2 separate regions of the Homo sapiens genome follow, and region 2 is linked to region 1. Evidence: fine-mapped expression QTL. A gene starts in region 1. The other region holds a variant in brackets. All regions are shown on one strand. Distances are from middle to middle.

The links. PIP is the estimated chance that this variant, and not a neighbour inherited with it, causes the effect.
Region 2: its variant is fine-mapped to the expression of DRC5 in prefrontal cortex (GTEx, PIP 0.97).

What each region holds. Positions count from the first base shown.
Region 1 is chr6:44,293,124-44,302,430 of GRCh38, forward strand. It overlaps DRC5 (dynein regulatory complex subunit 5), which reads right to left and starts at 4,575. Exons shown (of 5, transcript NM_182539.4): 1 at 4,536-4,575. It overlaps AARS2 (alanyl-tRNA synthetase 2, mitochondrial), which reads right to left. Exons shown (of 22, transcript NM_020745.4): 18 at 9,268-9,307; 19 at 8,937-9,047; 20 at 8,258-8,341; 21 at 8,033-8,143; 22 at 5,608-7,588. The coding sequence ends at 7,424. RefSeq lists a silencer at 4,489-4,568.
Region 2 is chr6:44,182,595-44,191,901 of GRCh38, forward strand. It overlaps CAPN11 (calpain 11), which reads left to right. Exons shown (of 23, transcript NM_007058.4): 20 at 347-425; 21 at 525-641; 22 at 1,111-1,169; 23 at 1,312-1,807. The coding sequence ends at 1,338. LOC105375072 (a long non-coding RNA gene) reads left to right here and starts at 3,389. Exons shown (of 3, transcript XR_926835.2): 1 at 3,389-3,464; 2 at 4,214-4,286; 3 at 7,115-7,347. The variant C/G (reference allele first, on the strand shown) is at 5,725.

The sequences.
Region 1 (9,307 bases):
AGGCCCCCAGGTTATTACTCACAGGACCTGATTCACTCCTGTGGCCTCTTCCTCTCTTGACTACATTGAGCCTCTAGTCTCACATCCCATCTCTCCAGGGCTGGGACAGTATCAGCACCTTACAACTGTCCAGCACTTAACAGTTACAAGGTCCTTTCAAGGTCCTTTCAGAACTATCCTCTCAAAAAAAAAAAAAAAAAAAAAAAAGTCTGGGTGTGGTGGCTCACACCTGTAATCCTAGAACTTTGGGAGGCCAAGGTGGGAGGATTGCTTGAGGCTAAGAATTCAAGACCAACCTGGCCAACATAGTGAGATGCCGTCTCTAAAAAATAAAAAAAATCTTCTCATGTGACTCTTCAACCACCCTATAATGGAGCTAGGATGGGCTTTCTTATCCCCATTTTACAGATGAAGAAACAAGGAAACAGGAAATGACTGGCCCTAAAACACCTATGAGAGCTGGGGCCAGCGTCTGAGGGCAGGTCTCCTACCTCTAGCCACAATACACTACCCCTCCACAGTCACTCAGTATGTCCCCCTCCCCTCACTGTTCCTGCCCTCCACTAGGCAAGAAGAAAGCATATTCTTGCTCCTTGGGAAGTGGGGAGGGCCTCCCCGGGCTAAGTGCGCTCCCAGGCCTTTGGCACTCCACTAGGGGAATTTCACGGCCCTAATGTACAGTCTTCATCCCTGTTAGGGTAAATGCATTTTCCCCCTAAATGAAACAAAATTTAATATCAATACTTGTATGCCTATATCCATATGTTAACCTTGAACTGCTTTTTAAAAACATATCTCATCATTTTAGGTCAAACAAAAGCATAGTAAATCATAAAATGTATACTGACACTAATGTAGCAAACTTTTTTTTTTTTTGAGACAGAGTTTCGCTCTTGTTGCCCAGGCTGGAGTGCCATGGCGCAATCTCAGCTCACCGCAACCTCTGCATCCTGGGTTCAAGTGATTCTCCTGTCTCAGCCTCCCGAATAGCTGGGATTACAGGCATGCACCACCACGGCTGGCTAATTTTGTATTTTTAGTAGAGACGGGGTTTCTCCATATTGGTCAGGCTGGTCTTGAACTCTCGACCTCAGGTGATCTGCCCGCCTTGGCCTCCCAAAGCGCTGAGATTACAGGCGTGAGCCACTGCACCCAGCCTAATGTAGCAAACTTTTTAAAAAGTAGAAGTTGTAATATATTGTTTCTGACAGTTTAAGTGTGCAGAAATTACATATATAATACACATGACTACATATAAGATATCAGGATATATGTATTCCACACCTTAGTGTGAATGAGTTTCAGATACAAAAAGCAAAGTTAGAAAAGGGGCAAGGGAGGCGGGATATGGTGGCTCATGCCTGTAGTCTTAGCACTTTGGGAGGTCGAGGAGGGTGGATTACCTGAGGTCAAGAGTTCAAGACCAGCCTGATCAACATGGTGAAACCCCGTCTCTACTAAAAATACAAAAATTAGCCAGGCATGGTGGCACATGCCTGTAATCCCAGCTACTTGAGAGGCTGAAAGAGGTGGTTTATAAGATAATTAGGGGAAAAAAATGAAGGTTGAACCCAGGAGGCAGAGGTTGCAGTGAGCTGAGATTGCGCCACTACACTCCAGCCTGGGCAATGAGAGCAAAACTCTGTCTCAAAAAAAAAAAAAAAAAAAAAGAAAGAAAGAAAAAGAAAGGAGGCAAGGAGAATAACCACAGAAAGGAGAGGAGGTGGGGAGTGGGTAAAGGAGAAGACAGGAGTCTGAGAGAGCTCTGCCTGTTTCACAGATTGGTCTTAGTCTGGCCTGGCAGTCATCAGCCTGCAGCTGAGGGTGCAAGTAGGTGGCACTATCTTCCCTGGGAGCCTGCAGGGATGGGTGGATACCCAATAGCTGGGGGCCCCGGGCACATGGACAGTCCCCAAGGACCCACAGAGGGCAGTCCTGGAGGTGGCTGAAGGGTCACCTTCCTCTCCGGAGCTTTCTTTCCCTGGGAACCTGTTGGGCCAGTCAGAGAATGCCAGAGTTTGAAGACTAGGAGCATGTTCAAGACTCCAGTCTTGAACATGGGCAGGGCAGGAATCCTGACATTCCAGAGAGGTCAGGGCCACCAGGAGTGGGTACGTCTTGTGCCACCACCTGGTGTCTCCATCCAAGGATGTGCTGCGCTCTCAGAGGGGGAAAGTGGGAGAGTGGGGACACGTGCAGTGGACTTTCACTTCTCTGGGGCCTGCCTCACCAGCTTGTTTGGCTTCACATGGTTGTGTCTCTAACCTGGGACCACAGTCCCCAGGGAAAGGCCAATCCTCCTCCCCTGGGCCCCTACTCTGCATCCTCAGGACCAGGGTCCAGGGTCCTGAAATCACACACAGGGAACAACGTCTATACCAGGACATTAACTCAAAGGATTGGGTGTGGACTGCTCTTTCCATGCCCAAGCACAGGTAATAGAAAGTGACAAGATGTTCCAGTTTGGCCAGGGTTGTCCTCATTTCTGATGGCTTGAATCTGGTGGACAGGTGTTCTGGGAACCATACCCTTGGCTATATATAGCTATGATTTATTGAGAGCTCTAGGCCTTCAATAACATGTACATAGCAGGAGGCAGGACAGCAGCTGGCTAAGTACTCAGGAGTTGTGCTGCTGCCTCAAGTCAAATCTCCACGGTGCCCCCCACTATCTGTGCAACCTTGGGCAGGTCCCCACTTGCCTCAGTTTCTTCATCTATAACGTGGGGACAGTACTTAATAGTATCTATTTCATAGGATTACTCAGAAGATTAAGGAGCTAATGTGTGTGAGACATTTCATATAGTGCTGGGCCCAGAGCCAGCACTCAAGATGTGTGTTAGATATTGTAGTGAAGATGCTAGATACCTTACTACATAATTTTATTAAAATCTCAAATTAATTATTGAGGATTATTATTTAACACTATTGTCCCCATTTCACAAATGAGGAAACTGAAACTTAGAAAGCTTAAGTAACTTACTAAATGTCACTAGCTAGTAAGTGGAGAAGCTGAGGTTTTAGTTTGTGTCTGTCTAATGCTCTTACTTCCATGAGATGCTGGGGTTGCTTATAAATTGCTCCCAACTCAGTCATTCATAGCACTTTTCCAGTGGGTCTCCCACTTTCTCCAGCTCATGAGCTCTCTTGTTCACCAATATGGAGCCCAGGGTTATACCCTTGGTGCTGACCTAAATAGTCCAGGCTCCCTCTTCCAGTTCACTGCTGGGTATAGGAGACTTCCGCAAGGCTGGACCACTGCCTGCATCCTTTGGAGGGTGCAAGGAGCCCAACAGAGTGCTGCAGAGTGGTGCTCTCCTGCCCCTGGCATATTCCCTCCACAGGAAGTCTCAGGTCTTCTCCATCCTTCCTCAGGTCCCCAGCTAAATCTAACCATTCTGGGTAGGAGCTCCTTCCACCTGCCCTAATGGGAACACGAGGAAGATGCTGTAGGTTTGCATTCTCACCTTCTTGTGCATCACAGTTCTGGTCCTCAACTGTCCCCTCCTCCCTTCCTCTTAGTGGAGAAGTGGAGACACCCGGCCCTCTTTGGGCAGACAGCGCCTCTGTGCCCGGGACACTTCCCCAGGAGCTGGCTTTGCACCCACTGCTCTGACTGCCTTCTCTGCCTTCTCAGCCGCTCCCACCCCAGATCCCCTCAGGAGAGCCCTCCTCTGTTCTCAGGGCTCTGGGCTTTTGTCTACAGCCACCTCCATATCCTTCATGCCCACCATGTCTTACTTTGGGGTAAGTCACTCCCAAGTTGGGAATTCCACTTGTGGAAGGGCAAAAAACTTTCTCCAACTGAGCCTCGGCCCGTGTGCTTGGACTTGGGCTGGGTGAAACCGCCAGTTCACTTACCACAGCCCCTGGGCTGGCCTCCTCCCAACTCCTGACCACTCAGGTCTGTTGTCTCAAAAGTGACTCCAGCGGCTCTGGAGTCTCCCACCCCTCCTCCCTACCTTCAGCTCAGACACCCCAGCAGAGAAGCTCAGCTCCAAAGGCCAGGAGTCCCTCCCCCATCCTACCTGGGGTGTAGAGGCGCTGGCTTCTCCTTGGTAACCCAGGGAAACCGGCAGTGCAGTGGGAGGTAGGGAGATGAGGAAGCTTCCGCACCCGCGGGAGGGATTACAGCCCTCGGGTGATGGGAACGGACGGCCTTTCGGAGAAGCCTAGGGCCCCAGGGCTTGGGACCGCTCTCCTCCACGCCCTACGGATGCCCCACTTTCCCCCTCTTCTTCCCAGTCCCTCCCCTCGCCTCACTCGGATCCCCAGCCCCGGGCCAGACGGTTTGCAGACAGTGACTGTGGTGGGGAGGAGGCGCGGGGCGTCCTCGCGTGGAGGGCGTGGGGTCTCCCGTGGGTACGGACCGGCGCTTCCCCGCCACGGAAAACGCAACCCAGGCAATGGCCGCCCGTGGGCTTCGGGCCGGTGTGGGCAGAGGACGCTAGAGGGGCTCCCGGGCCCAGCCGGCCAGAGGGGGCCCCGATAAGGGAGACCGGGGCTGGGTGTCCCCACTCCCGGAGGTCGCCTCACCCGCTCCGGGAGCCCCGGCGCTCGCCTCACGCAGAGTCCCGCGCGCCGGCGCAGGTCTTTGTCGTTGGGGACGCCCCGCGTTGCTAGGAGCGGGCCGGGCCGGGAGGACGAGCGCGCCGCTGCTTCCTCCGCTGCCGCTGCCGCTGCGCGCCAGGCACGCGGCTTACTCGCGCGCAGGGTGGCCAGGCCCGGCCTCGGGACGGTTCCGTGGAAGCGGCCGCTTTGCGGGTAGTGGGACTGTGGCCTTGCGCTATGCCCTGTGCTTCCGTGGGACGTGTCTAGGAACGGGTGGGCTTTCTGCGGGAGGCGGGGGTCGGGCAGGGCTGCTGGTCTGGAGTGCTTGTGCTCTCTTGGTAGCTTTTGTGTGGCAATGGATAGGGAGCTGGTCCAGGAAAAGCGTCTGTGGAAGAAGAGGAGGGTGGACGCACCTTCTCCAAGGCACCTGTAGAAGTCACTGGAACTCCCGTGAGGCCTCCTGTTGACCTTAGGCCCTGCGGGAGGGAGGGCACCTTCCACCTTTCCCCCAGCTGAAGGTCTGGTACCAGACGCAGGAAGGTTCCAGGCCAACACAGCGCTCCTTCACACAGTCCATGCCCTGTGCCAAACTCTCTTCCAGCCCTGGCGCGACAAGATGTGGTTGGGGCCCCAGATCTCCTGGAGGGCGAGAGGGACAGACCAGAGGGACGGCTAGTAAAAAAAAAGAAATTGGCCTTCAGGAAGGGAGAGGCAGCCAGGGTGGCGGGGCTTTCAAAGGGTAGCTTTGACTTCAGCTCTGCCGAGGACTACTAGTTGGTTACCCTGGATGAACATCTCGAAGCTCTGTTAACTCATCAATAAATCAGGGGTGCCAAAACTCATCTTGGCGCTCGCGGAGGAGCTTGAACCTGGGCCTGTGGTGAGCACTGCTAAACAGGCTACTGCCCCAGTGGCCAGGATGCTGCTTTGCAAGCAGTGAGGGGCCAGGCACCCGGGATTGGGTCCCTTCAAGCCCTCAGCAGTGCCTTACCAGCAAATCATCAGTGCCTTAATTAGAATGAGAAACTGCAGAAAATGATGCCAGGCGGGCCCACGCTGCTCGAATAATTTTTACTAGACAGAATTTGGTAGCCAGGGAGCCCTTGATTTGAAGATGGATCCCCTGAGGCCCTTTCCTTCATCTAGCAACAGAGATCTAGGAACAAAGGCAGAGGTCCAAAGTCTGGCTGTCTGAGGTGGACTCATTCTGGTAGGGAAGGAGGGCTTTCCTCCATCTCTGCTTCCTCCTGCTTTGAAGTGCCAATTTTCAGCTTCAGCTCAGGCTTGAGGCAGGTGCTGTACAACTTGTTTTAATAAGCATATTGTTTGTCTGACCCCGCTCTCCAGCCTCCTCACCTGCCCCTATCCCAGCTCACTGCTCAGTGGCACTGGCCACCTCACGGCCTCTGCATTGGCTGTTCCCTCAGGCTGGAATGCTTTTCCCTGATTTCCACACGGGTCACACCCTCACCTCCCAGCTCCCTGCTCACATGTCACCTCTTGGTGAGGGAATATCACCATCCACACTCCTGATCCCCATTCTCTATTTCCCCCCCAGACCTCATCACCATCTGACACTTTCTCCCTTCTTTTTTTTAAGACAGGGTCTCACTCTGTTGCCTGGAGTGCAGTGGTGCAATCATAGCTCACTGCGGCCTTGAATTCCTGGGCAAAGTGATTTTCCCACCTCAGCCTCCCAAGTAGCTGGGACCAAGGTGTGGGTAGTCTCAGCTACCTGGGAGGCTGAGGCATAAAGATTACTTTTTTTTTTTTTTGTAGACAGGGTCTTGCTGTTTGCGCAGGCTGGTCTTGCACTTCTGGCCTCAAGCGATTCTCCAACCTCAGCCTCCTAAAATGCCAGGATTATAGGCATGAGCCACCAAGCCTGACCCTCTTCTTTTGCTTTATTTCCTGTTTCCTCCACATGAAGCAGGCTCCATGAAGGAAGGAACTGTCAGTTTAGTGCCCGCCACGTTCTCAGTTGCTCAATTCATCAACAAACCAGCAGGGCCCAATTTAAATTAGAGGTCATTGTTAATGAAAGAAGTAATAGCAAAGAAGGTCTCCAGTGCTGAAATGATTTTCACAGGATGGTTCTGTATCTTCCCAGTAGCCAGGGAGCCCTTTGTCTGCCCACTGTTGCCTGGCACGCAGAGCCTGTCCGAACACTCATGGCAATGAAGATGGCCCGATTTGGATCCTGGGTGGCCTTTCAGACAGTGTGAGTTCAGACTGGTCTTAGGTTGCTGGGAGGGGCAAAACTACTCTTTTTTAAAGGTAATAGAACCTTCTGGAGCTTGCTATCCTCTGTGAAATAATTATTTGAGACAGAGTCTCGCTCTGTCACCCAGGCTGGAGTGCAGTGGTGCGATCTTGGCCCACTGCAACCTCCACCTCCCAGGTTCAAGCGATTCTTCTGCCTCAGCCTCCCGAGTAGCTGGGACTACAGGCGTGTGCCACCACACCCGGCTAATTTTTTGTATTTTTAGTAGAGATGGGGTTTCACCATGTTAGCCAGGATGGTTTTGATCTCCTGACCTCATGATCTACCTGCCTCGGCCTCCCAAAGTGCTTGGATTACAGGTGTGAACCACCACACCCGGCCAGTGAAATAATTTCTAATGTGCAGTCACAGCCATAATTGTCCATGTCTTCTCTTTCACCAAGGGGGTGTGTGTCTTTGGGCCCAGTTCTGCCTTCCCTAGCCCATGTCTCCTTGTGTCACGTAGGCCCTGGCCCAGGTGATCTTCTTTGGCTCAGCTGCTTGGCCTCCAGCCTCTAGTCCTCGCTTCAGCATGTGGGAAGGTTCTGCTGGCTCCTTCAGGGCTCCTGGCATTGCCTTTAGTCCATGTGGGTCCCTGGGCGGACCTGGGTCAGAGCTGGCTGAGGGCATAGGTTTGGGCTATACTGAGGGCAGCTTCCAGGTCAGTAGTGCTTCCGGTGCCTTGGGCCACCACTCGTGAGCCCCACGCCTTGCCCCCCATGTGGCTGCACACTGCCAGTGCCCAGGCCTCTGCTGTGAAGGTGGGCATGGCACCCTAGGAACAGAATCAGAAGAGGAAGCGATGCAGAGTGGCCCTCCCTGCCAGCATCCACTCAAGGTACCCTCAAGAGTGGAGCTGAAGGTCATCAGTGCCCCCTTCCCAGCTGGGCACATGGTGGGGCAGTCAGGTGATGAGCCGGAGAAGGTTTGGGCTGGAAATGTGTGTGGGGAGGTGTATGAACGTGAACATCTGCTACTTGTTTACAAGGGATGTGAGGCCTGGGAGGGGTTAGGAATTAAGGAATCTCTTGGTGCCTTCTGGGGTGGGGAGGGGCTGTTTTCAGGAACAAGGAGATTCCCCATCCCTGTCCTGGAGTATCCTCATAGATACTTCCACCCAGCCTTGGCCCCTTTGGGAGGAATTAAAGGTGTAAAATCAGAGAGCTGGACCAGGATGGGTATTAATGGGGGCGGTGGGCTGCTCTCCCACTTCCCTCACCTGGGCCACCTGACAGGCACACAGCACCTTCCCCATGGGCTGGGGGCTGAGTAGGAGCACAGACGTGCTGGGGGCCTGCTCACACAGCTGCCGTACCACCTTCACCAGCACCTGGACCACGAAAGACAGATGGTGAGCCCATCGCTTCCCAGACCCCTAGCTGTCTCCTGGTCAGGACTTTGCCCTCCCCAGACCCTGGGGCAGCCCGGCTTGGCTAGCACTCACTGAGAGAGACTCAGCAGAGACTGTGTCCACAATCAGAGGCCCCTTCGAGTGCCGCTCCAGCAGCTCCTGAGTTTTCTTTGCAGCCTATGGGGCAGGAAGGACAAGCAGAGGGGTCAGGCTGAGAGGCAGGTTTCCAATTAGCCCCAACTTCTGAACTAAGCCCCAGCTGAGCAATCCCCTGCTTCCCCCACCCACCCCAAAAGTCATTAGCTCTAGGCAGAGGTGGCAGGGACTCTGCCTAGGGTGGCCTCCTTTTTGGGTCCCACATGTGTCCTTCCTCACTTCCCTCACCACTTCCCTTTCATCATAGCTTCAGGCCCCTACAAATAGGTCGCTGAAGGTGAAAGGAGGAAGGTCAGAGCACAGATGGACCAGGAGTGGGCGGGAGAAAGGGGGATCCACAGTGGAGGTGCAATCAGGGCTGAATGGCACTAATCAAGTCAGTAGGCTTCCGGGGGTTCTGAGCCAGACTTGGGAGTTGGGGGAGAAACACAGTTTGAAAGAGACAGAAGTGGGGGAATGGCCTGGGTGATGGTTCTCAGCTGGCAGGAGAAGGAAGCTGCCACCACCCCGTCCTTGCACAGCCTCTGACTCACCCCCATGCCCCAGCCCTTGAGACTTCTCAGTGTATCTGCTGGAGTGTCTCTGGGCACATGGGTGCAGCCAAACCTCCTCTCACCTGTCCCATTTGCAGCTTACGGATGGCAGTGTTGGCACGCCGCTGCAGCATCTTCACTGTGGCCAGCAGCTCCCGCCGCTGCCACTGGGGCATCACAGCAGTTTCCACAGCCTATGGCCAGAAGCAGTACATCACCCCTGCCCTTCCCTGAGCCATAGTCTCTGAGGTAGGGACCAGCAGGGCCAGGGAAGACACCCACCCTGCAGACAAATATCTGGGCCAGCTGGAGCCCAACCCAATTGGAGTGCTAGGGAGAGTCTGAAGGAGTCCAGGGAGGAATAGGGGAGGTAATAGGGCTAGGAGAGGGTGGGGTGGTAGGCGTGGCCCTCACTTCAATGAGTCGTCCTATGTCCTTGGACAGCCTCAGTGCC
Region 2 (9,307 bases), 110 kb before region 1:
TCTTTTTCTTTTTTTTGAGACGGAATCTCACTCTGTTGCCCAGGCTGGAGTGCAGTGGTGCGATCTCTGCTTACTGTAACCTCCGCCTCCTGCCTCAGCCTCCTGACTAGCTGGGATTACAGGCATGCACCACCACACCCAGCTAATTTTTGTAGTTTTATTAGAGACGGGGTTTCGTCATGTTGGCCAGGCTGGTCTCAAACTCCTGACCTCAGATGATCCGCCTGCCTCGGCCTTTCAAAGTGCTGGGATTACAGGCATGAGCCACCGCGCCCGGCCTCAGTATTTCATTATTTCAACCACCATGCCATGCATGTGGCCCTACCATATCTGTCTGTCTCTTCAGGACATCTTCAGAGAGTGTGACCAGGACCATTCAGGCACCTTGAACTCCTATGAGATGCGCCTGGTTATTGAGAAAGCAGGTGGCCAAGGGTCAGGAGTGGGCCTTGGGGCAGGGAAGAGGATGGCAGTGTCCAGAGGCCCAGACTTTTCCCCTCCCCACTTCTCTCTCCCTCTCTCAGGCATCAAGCTGAACAACAAGGTAATGCAGGTCCTGGTGGCCAGGTATGCAGATGATGACCTGATCATAGACTTTGACAGCTTCATCAGCTGTTTCCTGAGGCTAAAGACCATGTTCAGTGAGTTAGGCATCTACCCACTCCCCAGCCTAGGCCAGGGGCCGCGGGCCCTTTCCCAAACACCCACCCTGATGGGTGCTGCTCCAGATCCCCTCCCCCTTACAAGGCACACATGAAATGGATTCAAAGCCCAGCTCCGCCACTTGCTGGCAGAGGTGACTTGAGCAAGTCACTTAATCTTTCTGTGCCTCCATTCCCTCCTCTTTAGAATGTGGATAATAATAGTACTGCCCTCAAAGGACTGAGGTGCAGGTTAAACCAGTTAGTCTATGGAAGGCAATCAGAACTGGGCCTGGCTCCTGGTGAGGCTATGTGAGTTGCTATCATTAATTCCCCACTTGGCTAGGGGATTTATGTGGGGAACAGCCAGGAACACCTGGTGTCGCCCCTTCCTACCTAGTTGGGAGTGGTTCTTTCGGAACACTGACTTAGCATTCAGCCCCTCTCCCCCGCTTCCTCTGTAACGCAGCATTCTTTCTAACCATGGACCCCAAGAATACTGGCCATATTTGCTTGAGCCTGGAACAGGTACTTGGAGAAGGGTGGGAAGGAATCTGCAGGATTGCACCTGCCTGCCCCTCAACCCCACCCCCACCCAGCTCTGATGTCCCCGGGCCAGCATCCTGCCCCCGTCTCTTCCCACCCTGGGATCTGCTTCCTGTCTCCACAGTGGCTGCAGATGACCATGTGGGGATAGAGGCGCTGTAGGAGCCTGGTCATCTCTACCAGCAGCAGCAGCAGCGAGGTTCTAGCCCAGGAGGGTGGGGTGCTTCTTGTAGCCCTCAGCTCTCCGGTCTCTGCTGATGAAATGGGCTCCAGGTGGCAGTGCCCGGGTCCCAGGTGCCGTGTTTACTGCAGCAGTGGGACCTCCGTGCCCACTCCCCCAGCTCAGAGGCTTTCTCTTTTTTCCCCAACCCGGCTTCTGATGGCTGGCTTTCCCCCACCATCGCTCTCTCAGAGTATATTTTACTAAAGAGTAGTTGATGCTTCCCCAGGGTCCCCCTGGCTGGGGAGGCCAAGAATAGGGAAGGGACTTGTAGCCCGTTTCTTACCCTCCATGCTTGCTGTCCTGCTCACACCTACCTGCTGACCACCCATCCTGGCACAGCCTCTGTTTTCCTCCCCATCTGTGGATACTATTCTAATAAATAGCACATGCCATTGGCTTCCATGTCTCTGTGTTTTTATGCCAAGAAAAGACTGGCAAGGGTGGAAGTCACTTACCCAGGACCAAAGGATTGGGTAGCTCTCAGCCAAGGGTGATAGGGAGCATATAGAAATGTGCAGTTGTCACAATAACTAGAGGCCATAGTTGGCGTTTATGGGCAGTGCCAGATGCTAAGCACACAAGTCCCTCCCTGTGAAGAACTGTGTGGTGTGCCCTATGGTGGAGCGCTTCTACGGGGGCTGAGCCAGGGCTCCAGGACTCTCATCTGCTGCTTCAAACTGGGGTCCCCAAAGGTGGCACTGCAGGAGCCTCGAAGGTTAAAAATCTGACACCTGCAGCCAGCAGGTCACATAAATGAACGAACTGCCGGGCGCGGTGGCTCACGCCTGTAATCCCAGCACTCTGGGAGGCCAACGCAGGTGGATCACCTGAGGTCAGGAGTTTGAGACCACCCTGGCCAACATGGCAAAACTCCGTCTCTGCTAAAAATACAAAACTTAGCTGGCCGTAGTGGCACGCGCCTATAATCCCAGCTACTTGGGAGGCTGAGGCAGGAGAACTGCTTGAACCTGGGGGGTGGAGGTTGCAGTGAGACAAGATCATACCACTTCACTCCAGCCTGGGTGACAGAGCAAGACTCTGTCTCAAAAACAATTTAAATAAATAAATGAACAAATCCTCCTCGTGTGGGACTGGGAAGGCTGAGGACTGTGGCAATAGGTGAACTCGTTCCTGCCTTAAAGGTGTTCAGATTCAAATCATTATTATTATTGTTAGAAATTTGTTGCCTGTCCACTTACTAAAACCTCCCTTAACTATCCTCCACCTTATCCAGAGAAGCTTCTTCTTTTAGAAAATCAAGCAAAGCAACTAAGTCAAGACATGTTAAAAAAAAAAAAAGTATGAAAAGAAAGCTGTAAGGAAATACAAGGGGAGGGATTGTTAGATATGAGTTCTAAATTTCTTTTCAAAGAATTAATATGTCAGTATGTTCAATTCTTTGCCTTCTATTTTTAAACTTCACTTCCTCGTAAAGCAACCTTTTCAATTACCTATTCCACCCTGACTCATTCCGATCACCTGCTCCACCCTAATTTATTCCAATCACCTGCTACCTGCTCTGCCCTGACTCCCACCAAAGCACTCACCCTGTCAGTCTCTTTAAATTAGTCAATCAGAATTAGTTTAGCCTGTGCGGTCTAACCCTAGCCAATAGGGGAACGACACAGCAGCAGGGGCCACGTGCATCAGGGATAAGAACCCCTTCCCCTCCCTTGTCCAAATGTGTGCTCACCATTGTTCCATCTATAAGGGCGCACGCTTCTATATAGAAGTAACTTGCCTTGCTGAGAATTAAAAAGAAAATTAAAAAAAAAAAAGAAATTTGTTGCTTGTCAAGCTACTGTCCTTGCAGGAGGCATGGAAGAAACACTTATTTCTGGGTCCACCTGTTTTTGACCTCGGGGTCTCTGTCCCAGGTGCCCACACCCCAACTCCAGCCCCAGCCCCCTGCAGTAGTGAGAACACCCAGGCCACTCACAGCAGCCCCTAAACTGTACTTCTCCTCCTGTCCTTCCAGAGCCCTCCACAGCCTCCCCTTCTGGTTTCTGGCAGGGACACTGGAGCCCAAGCACATGCGCTTCTCAGCCTCTCAGGTAGAGACAGCACCCCCAACTTCCCCTAGATTAGAGATCTGTCATCCCCAATGAAGCTAAACCCTTCCTGTCTCTGTGTACCTGTGCAGCTTCCTGGGGTCGCTAGCTTCCTTCCACGTGCACTAAACCCAGCCCTTGTGTGCTTAGTGAGGCAGGTGGGATTCTGATCTTCCTTAATCTGGTGACTGATTGTCTGCACCAGCCCTGGCCCCTGCCTTCTTTGTGACTTCAAAGACTAAAGCTAGTCTGCCTGGATATAAAGCCGCCTTCCCTCCATTATCACCACCCCACGCCGCCTTCAGAGGAATCGTTTCCTGTCCTGTCAGCCCTCCCTGCTTCCTCTCCGTCTCCAGTCCTGCCTGAAAGAATAGGTCACACTCTCTTTGGAGCCTCTTTGAAAGACTGTTCTCCCACTTGTCGTCCTCCCTCTCTCTCTAAGAGATGGCAGCCACCACCTGCTCTCCACAGAGCTTCTCTGAGTGATGAGCAAAAGTCCCCAGAGAGAGCAGGGAGAGGTCAGTGAGAGCCTCAAGCTAACAGGTCCATGCTGGGCATGGTGGCACATGCCTGTAATCCCAGCTACTCGGGAGGCTGAGGAGTTTGAGACCAGCCTGGGCAACACGGGGACTCCATCTTTTAAAAACAAAAACCTAGCAGGTCCTTTGAGACTCTGAGAGGTCCCGGGCAGTCCGGATTGGTTCTGGGAACCCTAGGAAGATGCTGACCCCACCTCTTGTTCCATGGCCTAGGGTGAAATGCTGCCAACTTCAAGCCAGGATGGAAAGGAAGCAGAAAACTCTCAAATCAGGACTATCCCTTCCGGTTTGTAACAAAGCTGGTTACTCACGAACACTCTGTAAACATAAAATGAAGCAAACTTCACATAAGTAGAGAGTTTATTTGGGCTAAACTTAAGGATTGTAACCCTGGAGAATAGATTCAAATTATTCTGAATATACATCCCGATTAGCAGCAGTTACAAGTGGATTTTTAGGCTGGGTACAGTGGCTCACACCTATAACCCCAGCACTTTGTGAGGCTGAGGTGGGCAGATCACTTGAGGCCAGAAATTCAAGACCAGCCTGGCCAACATGGTGAAACCCCATCTCTACTAAAAATACAAAAAATAGCCAGGCGTGGTGGCACACGGCTGTAGTCACAGCTACTCGGGAGGCTGAGGCATAAGAATCGCTTGAACCCGGGAGGCGGAGGTTGCAGTGAGCTGAGATTGTGCCACTGCACTCCAGCCTGGGTGACAGAGTGAGACTATCTCAAAAAAAGAAAAGAAAAAGTTAGCCAGGACTGGTGGCGCACACATGTGGTCCCAGCTGTGTGGGGAGCTGAAGTGGGAGGATCACTTGAGTCCAGGAGGTCGAGGCTGCAGTGAAATGTGATCATGCCAATGCACTCCTGCCTGGGTGACGGAGCGAGGCCTTGTCTCAAAAAACAAAAAGGTTTTTGTTTTGTTTTGTTTTGGGGTGTGTGTGTGTGTGTGTGTGTGTGTGTGTCAGGGCCTCTCTTTGTCACCCGGCTGGAGTGCAGTGGCACAGTTTTGGCTTACTATAACCTCTGCCTCCCGGGCTCAGGTGATCCTCCTGCCTCAGCCTCCTGAGTAGCTGGGACTACAGGTGCACATCACCATGCATGGCTAATTTTTGTATTTTTAGTAGACACAGGGTTTCACCATGTTGGCCAGGTTAGCCTCAAACTACTGACCTCAAGTAATCTGCCCCACCGCCCACCCCCCCGAGCCTCCCAAAGTGCTGAGATTAAAGTCATGAGCCACTGTGCCCGGCCCAAAATGCATTTTTAAAGGTAAAAAAGGGCTGGGCATAGTGGCTCACGCCTGTAATCCCAGCACCTTGGGAGGCCGAGGCAGGCCGATCACGAGGTCAGGAGTTCTAACCTGCCCAACATGGCGAAACCCCGTCTCTACTAAAAATACAAAAAATTAGCCAGGTGTGGTGGTGGGCACCTGTAATCCCAGCTACTTGGGAGGCTGAGGCAGGAGAATTGCTTGAACCCGGGAGATGGAGGTTGCAGTGAGCCAAGATTGCGCCATTGTACTCCAGCCAGGGTGAGAGCGTGAGACTCCGTCTCAAAAAACAAAAAAGAAAAGAAAAGAAAGGTAAAAAAGGAGGACAGTGAGTGGAATGATACAAAGTTATTTGTTAGGAATTCTCACCGGTTTTCAGAAATAACATTGATTAGTTATTGGCTATAGTGTCTGGTGTCCCATTATTAGGATAATTTATAGCTA[C/G]CTGTAGAAGTAGCAAGCAGTTTCAAGAGATGAATACATAACTTAAAGGGGAGTGCAGGGTATAGGGTGCAATTGTGTGTCATGTTACTGTCTCTCTGGGTCTGATAATTAAAAGGATTTGCATTCCTCAGATAAAAGTTATTTTTATTTTATTTATTTTTATTTTTTTGAGACAGAGTCTCTCTCTGTCGCCCAGGCTGGAGTTCAGTGGCGCGATCTCAGCTCACTGCAACCTCCGCCTCCCAGGTTCAAGCGATTCCCAGGCCTCAGTCTCCCAAGAAGCTGGATTACAGGCACCTGCCACCTCACCAAATAAAAGTTATTTTCTTTTCCCAACAATTTGCATAGTGGCTTAAGGTGAAGATTCACGAGCTATGTGTCTTTGGGCAAATTATTTTACCTTTCTAACAGAGTATCCTTTTGAATCTGTCAATTAGAGGTGACAATTCCTATCTCAGAGGGCTGTTGTATGGACAACTGCGATAATGAAAGTGAAGCACTTAGGCATATCATTCTTTTTTAAAAAAACTTTGATATTATCTATAATAGTAAAAAAATAAAAAAAACAAATTTTCAATTGTGAACATGTTATAGCCAGGAGTGGTGTGGGTCATGCCTATAGTCCTAGTTACTCGGGAGGCTGAGGCAGGAAAATTGCTTGAGCCCAGGAGTTCAAGGCTGCAGAGAACTCTGATCAAACCACTGCATTCCAGCCTGGGCAACAGAGGGAGATTCTGTCTCAAAAATAAATAAATAAATACACATTAGATGTTACACACGATAAAATATCAAGCCATTGAACTAAATAACACAAATGGCATGAGGGTTATGACATACAGTTGAATAAGCAAGATGCATATTAGATTTACAATAGTCCTTGACATTAGTGTTTACCATTTGCTTGCATTAAATATTATTAGCAATGGCTATATACAATGTTATTTAAAATTTGGAAAATGAGGCACACCATTCTTCTAGTCCCTTCAGGCTCCATTTCCATCCAACTTCACTGCAACTCCATCCCAGCTCAGCCTTAGTGCCCTGGGAGGCCATTCCCACTATGTCCTTGCTGTCTCCAAGGGACCTGTAACCACAGGCAGGCAGCCCATACTTTCTAGTCCCTTTTAGTCCTCTGCTCATAAAACCAGGTGGCTGAGTTTTGCTGGGAATGGGCACTAAACCATGCTGCCTGCATCCTCCTGATTCATGCTGGTTGACCTCGATGGAGGCCACGTGGCAAGCTAGATTTCTTCTCCTGATGACTGACTGCCATTCTCCACACCCACTGCCCTGATTTCCCCCAGACCTCTCACTACAGCCTTCATTTTTACTGCAAAGAATGAGGCTACATCAGAGAAACAGCCTCAACCCCACTTCTCTTCTCCCTCAGAATATCTTCGCAGCTTCATCCTCTGGTCTCTGAGAAAATTGGGTCCCAAATGTGCTTGAAAACCATGGAATGCCATGCAACAGAAGCAGCAGACTAGATGCCACCCAGCCACAGCTGTAGAGCCTGAGAAGATGCTGAGTGAAGAAAAAGTAAAGCAGGATGAGCTCATTAGCTTCTTTTGTTTTTTTGTGGTTGCTTTTTGTTTGTTTTGTTTAGGTACAGGGTCTCCCTCTGTCGCCCAGGCTGCAGTGCAGTGGTACAATCATGGCTCACTGCAGCCTTGAACTCCTGGGCTCAGGTGATCTTTCTGCCTCACTCTGCCATGTAGCTGGGACTATGGGTGCACGCCAACATGGCCAGCTTTTTTTTTTTTTTAATTTTTTGTAAAGACAGTCTCACTGTGTTGCCCAGGCTGGTCTCGAACTCCTGGGCTCAAATGATCTTCTTGCCTTGACCTCCCGAAGTATTGAGATTACAGGCATGAGCAACTGTGCCTAGCCCAATAGCTAGCTTATTTTTAAAAGCAATTTTAAAATATATATCTTGGAGATATTTTTCTATTAGTATATAGAGAGCTTCCTTTTTTTTTTTTTTTTTTGAGTTGGAGTTTTGCTCTTGTTGCCCAGGCTGGAGTGCAATGGCGCCATCTCGGTTCACTGCAACCTCCACCTCCCGGGTTCAAGCGATTATCCTGCCTCAGCCTCCCGAGTAGCTGGGATTACAGGCACCCGCCACCATGCCCGGCTAATTTTTTATATTTTTGGTAGAGACGGGGTTTCACCATGCTGGCCAGGAATGGTCTTGAACTCCTGACCTCAAGTGATCTGCTCGCCTCGGCCTCCCAAAGTGCTAGGATTACAGGCATAAGCCACCGTGCCTGGCCGAGATCTTCCTTATTTTTTTTATAGCTGTATAGTATTGCACTGGATTAAAGTCTCGTTATTTAGCAGTTCTTTGTTGACAGTTTTTTCCAATCTTTCATTATTATAAATAGTGCTGCAATAAATAACACTATACATGTTATTTTATCCCAGTAAAATATTTTTATACAATAAATTTCTAAAAGTAGGATTATTGGGCTAAAGAGTATGTATATCAGTAATTCTGAAAAAAAGGAAATTCCCCTCTATAAGGGTAATACTAATTTGTACTCCCACAAGCAAGATAAGAGACTGCCGTTTTCCCCTACAGACTCATAAACACCGTGTGTGGGCAAGTTTTTACATATTTCTAATCTGGTAGAAGAAAAATGGTATCTCAGCATAGCCATAATTTGCATTTCTCTTACAGCAAATGAGATTGAGCAACTGTTCATTTTTTGCTTTTGCTTGCATTTTATTTTCTATGAACTATCTCTTTATATTCTTTGGGAACATATATGTTATATATATGAAATATATGTTATATATAACATGGTATATATGTTACATATATATGTGTATATATAACATATGTTATATATTAAATACATATATTATATGTAACATATATGTTATATATATGTTCCCAAAGAATATAGAGTTACATATTTTATATATATATATATACATTTTTTTTTAAAGGTCTCACTATGTTGCCAGGCTGGAGTATGGCAGCTATTTACAGGGGGGATCATCAGGCACTATAGCCTGGAACGCCTGGGCTCAAGTGATCCTCCTGCCTGAGCCTCTTGTCCTTGCCCATTTTTGTACTGGACATTTTTTTTCTTTTTCTTTTTCTTTTTCTTTTTCGAGACAAAGTTTTGCTCCTGTTGCCCAAGCTGGAGTGCAATAGTGTGATCTAGGCTCACTGCAACCTCTGCCTCCCATGTTCAAGCGATTCTCCTGCCTCAGCCTCCCAAGTAGCTGGGATTACAGGTGCCCACCACCACGCCTGGCTGGCTTTTATATTTTTAGTAGAGATGGGGTTTCACCACCTTGGCCAGCCTGGTCTCGAACTCCTGACCTCAGGTGATCAGCTCCCCCCAGCCTCCCAAAGTGCTGGGATTACAGGCGTGAGCCACTGTGCGCAGCCCGTTTTTGTTTTTTCTTATAATTTTTTTTTTTTTGAGACAGAGTCTCACTCTGTCTCCTAGGCTGGAATGTAGTTGCGGGATCTTGGCTCACTGCAGCCTTTGTCTCCTGGGTTCAAGCGATTCTCCTATCTCAGCCTCCCGAGTAGCTGGTATTACAGGCACGTGCCACCATGCCCGGC